2 linked regions of the Homo sapiens genome follow. The protein of the gene in region 1 purifies or fractionates together with the protein of each later gene. This does not show direct contact. Each region holds a gene or a part of one and is shown in the gene's direction. Other genes may lie near its edges.

Region 1 (3,199 bases):
AGTGGAGACAGGGTTTCGCCATGTTAGCCAGGCTGGTCTCCAACTCCTGACCTCAGGTGATTCATCCGCCTCGGCCTTCGTAAGTGCTGGGATTACAGGTGTGGGCCGCGGTGCCCTTCCCCTGTTGTTTAGAAGATTTCCAGCAATAGAGAAGTGCTGACGACATATCTGGACCAAAGGAAGGCTTGATCATGGACACTTTCCTTTAAGAGGCTGGCTGGACTTAAACAAGGGCACAAATTTTTAGCTCTGTGACGACCAGCCAGTTACTTGGACATTTCCTTTGTAGTCCTGTGATGAGCAAAACGGGTTCATAACTAGTATTTCCCTTTAGGATTGCTGTGAGGATTCAAAGAATGAAAGAGATTAAAAAGGGACTGGTGTAGACTCAATGTCATGCAATAGTCAGGTATACTGAAGAGAAACAACTGCATGTCTTGTTTTTTAATTTTATTATTTTAGAGATGCTGACTTGCTATGTGGACTAGGCAGAACTCGAACTCCTGGGCTCAGGTGATCCTCCCGCCTCAGCCTCCTAAGTAGCTGGGACTACAGCTTCCCGCGACCTCACCCATCTTGCTTTTTAATTTAAAGCAGAGTCTGCATATCATCTGAAGTCATCTCTCTTTGGGGACATCCCACAGGTCCAGAACTGCCAGACGGTAGTGGGGTGGCCGGCTAGGCTGTGGGGAGCATGGAGATTTATCTGCAAAGGAGGACCTGGACAAATGTTCCCCCACATCCTCTCAGGCGAAGAGAATGGACGGGAGAGAGAGGCCGACCAGTGTTCCCCGTGTTGCTGTGTACGGAGGAGCCAGTCCGAGGGACCGCGGTGTGGACAGGGACAGGCAAGGCGGGGAAGGAGGAGAAACGAAAGCCACATTGGTGGCGGGTGCTCTGCACACGACTCGCTCCCTACCACACGCCCCCCGCTCCGCACACGACCGATCCGGGGACTGGAGCAGGAGGGCTGCACCGGGACTCCGGGACAGGCCCAGTTGAAAACGGCGGGGCGAGGGGGTGGGGTGGAGACGCCCGCGACGCCAAGGCTGGGGTCCCGGAAAGCGCGGGGAGGAGGGTGGAAGGCAAAGGCAACTTCGGGGAAACTGGGAAAGGCGGCCGGGACCTCGGGGACACTGCGTACCACCCGGCGCACAGCCCCTCCCGCGCAAACCCGAGCCAAAGGGGCGGTCGAGCGGCGCACTCGGAGCGGAGCTCAGGGGATGGTGCGCCCGGCACTTATGCTGGGCTCAGCCCAGCCCAGCCCAGGACCGCTGGCGGTGCGAACCCAGCCGGGCGGGTGCAAGCGCGGGGCAGGGCCTCTGCGCCCGGCCCCCTCCCCTGAGTAGAAAAGCAGCCGCAGGCTGTGGCGCTCCACCACGCCGTCCGGGTGGGCCTAGCAGTCGCTCCATTTATCGCTTGAGATCTCCAGCCTTACCGCGGCTCGAAATGGACCCCAACTGCTCCTGCACCACTGGTAAGAGAAGCCGACCCTGCGCCCTAGGAATCCCATTTCCCAGCCCCAGTACTGAGGGTCTCTGGGTTTGAGGAGGTCGCATTTAAGTTCTGAGCGGAAGGGAATTCCTTTACTTCCTTAGGTGCTTTCTTCCTGATCTCCCCTCTGAGAGCACTGCCCTCCCTCCTGGGCCTCTGGGTCAGAGTTAAGGATACTGAGGGTCAAGGCAGTCCCGCTCCACATCACCCAGTTGGTTAGGGTCCTGCTGGCTGGGCCCCAGTGTTCTCCTCCAGGCTCTGAGCAATCAGGGTGGACTGGGGGCTGGAGACATTTGAGTCTTCAGGGTTCAGCACAGAAGGTTCTGGCTGGCAATCTCAGTATTCCTGGGTTGGGTGTGCCCCTGGGACCTTCCTGGTAGGGTAAAACAGGAGGGTGCTTGCCCTTCCCAGCGTTAGTGGAGAGGACAGGGGCTTTCCCTGAGTGGGAAAGGAGCTCTGAGGGCTGGCCCTGCACAAAGGAGGGGGCACTGGAGACTCATTGACCCATTGCTGTACCTTCTTCATCTCACTCACTGCCCACTGCGTTTTTCTCTTCCTTGCAGGTGTCTCCTGCGCCTGCACCGGCTCCTGCACGTGCAAAGAGTGCAAATGCACCTCCTGCAAGAAGAGTGAGTGCGGGGCCATCTCCAGGAATCTGGGGCTGTGGCTGAGATTGGGAGGGAACCCAAGGCTGGCCCTGAGTGCATCCTTCTGGGGAACTGGGCTTTCTTTGCCCTCATTGCCCGTGTCATTCCCTCTCCAGGCTTTCTGCCCTAAATTCAGATGGGGCAGGACAGCATTTTTCTCTTGGGACACAAATCCCAACTGTAGCATCTATGGTTTCAGAACAGAGCTGTGCCAGACGTAAAAAGCTTCCTCTGGGTCTGGGTTCTGAGCTCCAGCCAGGCTTGCTATTGGGGCAGGGCGGTGCCCGGTCAAGTCTACTGCTACCTCTCTCTCCCCTTCTTCCCCAGGCTGCTGCTCCTGCTGCCCCGTGGGCTGTGCCAAGTGTGCCCACGGCTGTGTCTGCAAAGGGACGTTGGAGAACTGCAGCTGCTGTGCCTGATGTGGGAACAGCTCTTCTCCCAGATGTTAATAGAACAAGCTGCACAACCTGGATTTTTTTTCAATACGATACTGAGCCATTTGCTGCATTTCTTTTTATATTAAATATGTGAGTGACAATAAAACAATTTTGACTTGAATCTTACTCTGTTCTTCTTTGTGTGCCTTGGAAAAAATGGACTGGGTGGGGGTTAAACTGGGAGTTTAGAGACCAGTCTCTGGATGAAAATGTGAGTCACTAACAATGTGAACACCTTCAGGCCAGCCAGGTTACTCACTGAGTTCACCCTTCTGTAAAACGGTATTGCATTGTGCACACCATATGGGTGCGGGCCATACATGATCGCTTTTAGTGTGATTCCAAATGTGGTACAGAAACTTCATCCCTTATTTTTATTTTCTGATTTTCCTCCACAACTTGAGATCCACATTGGATTTTAGGCTTAAAAGTGGCTATAGTGCTGGAACCCAACTTCTTAGTTTCTTGAATCCTACACGGGTGCTATGATTTAGATATTTTGTCACTGCCAAATCTCATGTTGAAATGTGTCCTCCACTATTGCAGGTGGGGTCTAGTGGGAGCTTTTGGGGCCATGAGGACAGATCCCTAAAGAATGGCTTGGTGCCCTCCCATGGTGAA
Region 2 (4,643 bases), on another chromosome or scaffold:
AAGATTTAGCAATGAGAAGCTATAGTATATCTTGAGCCACAGAATATTCTTGAGCAGGAGTAATAAAAAATACTGTTTTGTGAAAATTAATCTGATGGGGAGGAGGTAATAGAGATGGATTATGGGTGGGTGGGAGTGAAGAATTAGATTTAGAAAAGAGATCATTTAGAAACCAGAGTAGTCATCCAACTATGAGATGATAAGAACTTGAATAAGGGTGGAAGCAATAGGAATGGAAAGAAAGGCATAGATTTGTAAGACAAAGAAAAAAAATAGAAAGTGGTGGCATTATTAGATGGGAAAAGGAGGAAAGTCACCAGTCTCGTTGCTCTGTTTTAGGATCCGTGAGGTTCATCTATCTGTAGTGCTTCTGGCCAGAGAAAAGGCCGAAGAGAGAAAACCCTGAGGAACATCTTTGACCTGCATAGAAACTTATCTGAAGATTTTCAGAATCTGAGCCTCACCCTCAGTCTATCCCAGTTTTATCCTGACCTGTCCACATCTGTTATACTCCAAGGCTTGCTGGGCCCAACACTGGAAGCTATTTAATGTTTCTATTGCGACTGGCCTTTTAAAGCCAGTGGGATTCTCCATGCTACACTTGAGCCTGGAGACTAGAAAACATGACAGCCTGTTTTCATTAATCCGTTTTCATTAACTGCTGTGGTCTGAATGTTTATGTTGTCCACAGATTCATATATTAAAATCCTAACTCCCGGCTGGACGCAGTGGGTCACACCTGTAATCCCAGCACTTTGGGAGGCTGAGGCAGGTGGATCACTTGAGGTCAGGAGTTCGAAACCAGCCTGGCCAACATGGCAAAACCCCGTCTCTACTAAAAATGCAAAAATTAGCCAGGCATAGTGGCTGGGCTAATCCCAGCTACTGGGGAGGCTGAGGCATGAGAGTCGCTTGAATCCTGGGACTGGAGGTTGCAGTGCCCCAGGATCATGCCACTGCATTTCAGCCTGGGCAACAGACAGCGAGACTCCATCTCAAAATAAATACGCAAATAAATAAAATAAAATCCTAACTCCCAAAGTCATGGTATTAGGAGATGGGGCATTTTGGGGGGTGATTAAGTTTTATGAGGGCAGAGCCTTTCTGAATGGGATTCATACCCTTATAAATAGGCCCAAGGGAACTCATTCACCCCTTCTACCATGTGAGGACACAGCAAGAAGGTGCCATCTATGGACCGGAAAGCAGCCCTCACCAAACACTGAATCTGCCAGCACCTTGATCTTAGACTTCTCAGCCTTCAGAGCTCTGAGAAATAAATGTCTGTTGTTTATAAGCCACCCAGTTTGATATTTTGTTCTAGCAGCCCAAACAGACTACAACACCTTCCCTGGGCTCGCCTCAGCTTCTGTTGTGGGGCAGAGCATAAGGCAATTTGACTAGGACCCAGAGGATGGGTAAGCTTGGCTGAAATGATGGAAATGTGATCATCTGAAAAGGTCAGAAAGTTGGCAGTTTGCTCAATTCGGCATGCAAGGTAGGGAGACCAAAAGCCCCCTCCTTTGAAGGCAATGGCTGTAGCTGGGGCCAGAAGTGATGTCACATAACCACTGCTGAGGTCATAGAATCTTCCCTCTCCTCCCTCTGTCTCCTCATTGCCACAGCCAACCGGCTCCCACATATCTGCACACACTTAAATACAAAGGCCGGGAAGGGTCAGACCACCATCCGGGTACTCTAAGGTACATAAAAGAGGTAGGGGAAAGAGAGGATCATTCAGTAGGTAGGATCCACACTGGTATCTCCAATGCTGGGAATGGGAGACTCATGCTGTAGTTGCGTAGGTGCAATGGGAGCTGGGAGGGAGAAAGGAGAGAGCAACAGGGAAGAGGGGAGCTGTTCCTGTTGCTGACTGATTTTACCATAACACTCATCCTCATTACTCCACAGTCCTCCCTCCCCCTTCTCCTTCACCCCCAAGTGTCTCCCACGACTGCCCTCCCCGACCTCTAGCTGACCATGGCATCAGAGGCAGAAAAAACATTCCATCGGTTTGCTGCGTTTGGAGAATCATCAAGCAGTGGCACTGAAATGAACAACAAGAACTTCTCCAAGCTGTGCAAAGACTGTGGCATCATGGATGGCAAGACAGTCACCTCCACGGACGTGGACATCGTGTTCAGCAAAGTCAAGTGAGGAGCCAAAAATATGGAGGTGGGGGTGAGAAGAACCTGCGAGGTAGTTGGCCACGGAAGGGTTCACGTGGTGGAACATTTGCAGTGGGCCTACCAAGCACCACAGGGTACCTGGCGCTGTGCTATCCTTTGTCTTCGAGACACTCACTGATTGATAGGACAAAAGAGGCCAAATCTGAGTGAGGCAAGAGTTGGACCTTGGAAGGTAATGCATTCATGCTCCAAAGTTTCTGGATTTCTGTCTAACTGACCAGGGCCAAGAACGCCCGAACCATCACGTTTCAACAGTTCAAAGAGGCAGTGAAGGAACTGGGCCAGAAGCGCTTCAAAGGGAAGAGTCCAGATGAAGTCCTGGAGAACATTTATGGACTCATGGAGGGCAAAGACCCAGCCACCACTGGCGCTACTGTGAGTGACAGCCTTCATCCCCTTGACCCTACTTCCCTAAATCCCCATTGTTCCAGTCTACCCTCCCTAACCCTGCCAACTGTGTGACTGTAGAGACAGGGCCGAAACAGACTTTAGAGATCATCTAGACATTCCAGAAGTCAGGAAAATGTGGCCCAGAGAAGGGAAGTGACTTGCCCAAGGTCCATGGCTATTTTAATAGTAGATTTAGACTAATTTCCAAGTGTCTAGTATCTGAGCCAGGCAATTAGGGCTTGGTAGCTTTTGGAGGACATTAGTGTAGAGAATTTGGTACCTGATGCCCACTCCTCTTCCAATTCTTATTTAGGGTTTAATCTCAGGCCTCCTGCCTCTCACCTACTCCCTTTTTTAATTGTCCTGTCTGAACTAAAAGCTCTTTCTACAGTGGATATTGAGTCGGGGAGTGGGAGTGAAGTCCTCAGGCAGCAGCCTAGTCAGAATAACTCCTCTGGAAACAAAAAACCTACCCTCCCTCTGCACACGCCACACTCATTCCCACACCACACTCCTCCTCCCCCATGAGTGAACGGCTCTTACCAGAGTACCTGCCCACAGCTGTATCTGGGCCCTAAGAAAGCAGCACCCCATGCCAGTGGCAGAGCAAGAGCTCCAAGCACTTGTTCTAAGTATCTCGGGCCATCTTTGGGGAAGGGATATGACAGCGTAAGGAAAGGAAGAGAGCTCAAATCCATCCCTGGCTTGCAGAAAGCAACAACAGTGGGTGCAGTGGACCGTTTGACAGACACCAGCAAGTACACCGGCACCCACAAGGAGCGCTTTGATGAGAGTGGCAAGGGCAAGGGCATTGCGGGACGGGAAGAGATGACTGACAACACAGGCTATGTGAGTGGTTACAAGGGTTCTGGCACCTACGATAAGAAGACCAAGTAGAGAGGAGCTTCATCTCAGCCTGCTAGCCCCCTGACCCTGCATGTTTAACACCAGGGAGCTTGGAAAACAATAAACATCTGTGTGTGCAGCAGCCAAAATCTCTGTCTGTGAGGGACAGATGAGCCTACTAGTGTAGAGAGAGGGAGAAGAGGCAGCACAGGAGGGTGGGTTCTCCACCACACACCCTTCGCTCTGCTTAGCCTTATGCCTACCAGCCATCAGTTAGCATTCCTCCTCAACAGCTGCTTCCAAGAACAGGATGGAAGAATATATTTGGAGTAAAGAGATGAACCAGATGTGGAGGTAAAAGTATCTACTACTTGTGTTCACACATTACTGATATCCACCTCTCCACCCCCACCCCTCAAAAGGGTGTAGCAATTCCTCACGTGATGGACTATGACTATATCACATATTAGATCCTTCCCTGTCCCTCCACCTTCCTCATCTGTTGCAATTCAGGTTTTTTGGGTGGAGGAGTAGAAGCCAGCTAAGGTTGCCTGACTTCTATTACAAATTTGTTCCAGAGCTGGGGTAAGGGGAGAGTCTATTTTCAACACCCAGCCCAGAACTAAGTTTTACCCCACATCACCTCCATCATGGGGCACATGGGACAGAAGAGCTTACTGACTGCTAAGGGTAGCTCAGGAAGATGGCCAGATGAGGCAGGCTGCCAGGATTCCAAGAGCAGGAGTTCTGGTGCACTGAAGAAAAAGCAATTAAATCACAACAGAGTCAGATGTGTGTTATTAACTTTTTATTTTGAATTGATTATGGGTTGACAGGAAGTTACAAAAAATGGTACAGAGGGGGCTCGTGTGCCCTTCACCCAGTTTCCCCCAATGGTTACATCTTACATACTCAGATGTGGTTTTAGAAATTTATGTTCGATTAGAGCCGGGCCTGCCTCATTCGCTGCCTGGTCAGGGGCAGACTCTGGAGTCTGGGGGATTTGGGAGGAGCTTCTGGAAGAGAAGGGAAGCAGGAACCTCTGGGGAATGGGTGAGAGAAGATACCTTGAAATGCCAGTGAGCCAAGGTAAGAAGACTGGAAGAAAAAGAGGTTGGAAAAAGGAAGGCAGGGTGACTACGGTTGTTGGGAGTGTGGGGGAGACAGTCCTAGGCTCCATGGTAAGAGGAAGCAGGAGAGGACAGTTATATGAAGGGA

What was found.
Region 2: the proteins of MT1M (region 1) and TPPP2 purify together in Homo sapiens (affinity purification with mass spectrometry; one large-scale study listed by BioGRID and IntAct). This does not show direct contact.

Annotation. Positions count from the first base shown.
Region 1 is NC_000016.10:56,631,283-56,634,481, forward strand, and holds MT1M (metallothionein-1M), read left to right. Parts: upstream 1-1,376; 5' UTR 1,377-1,449; coding exon 1,450-1,477; intron 1,478-2,057; coding exon 2,058-2,123; intron 2,124-2,468; coding exon 2,469-2,560; 3' UTR 2,561-2,699; downstream 2,700-3,199. UniProt on the Homo sapiens protein: Metallothioneins have a high content of cysteine residues that bind various heavy metals; these proteins are transcriptionally regulated by both heavy metals and glucocorticoids.
Region 2 is NC_000014.9:21,028,602-21,033,244, forward strand, and holds TPPP2 (tubulin polymerization-promoting protein family member 2), read left to right. Parts: upstream 1-1,615; 5' UTR 1,616-1,703; intron 1,704-1,911; 5' UTR 1,912-1,980; coding exon 1,981-2,153; intron 2,154-2,410; coding exon 2,411-2,564; intron 2,565-3,290; coding exon 3,291-3,476; 3' UTR 3,477-3,718; coding exon of another isoform or gene 3,719-3,766; 3' UTR 3,767-4,214; downstream 4,215-4,643. UniProt on the Homo sapiens protein: Probable regulator of microtubule dynamics required for sperm motility. In contrast to other members of the family, has no microtubule bundling activity.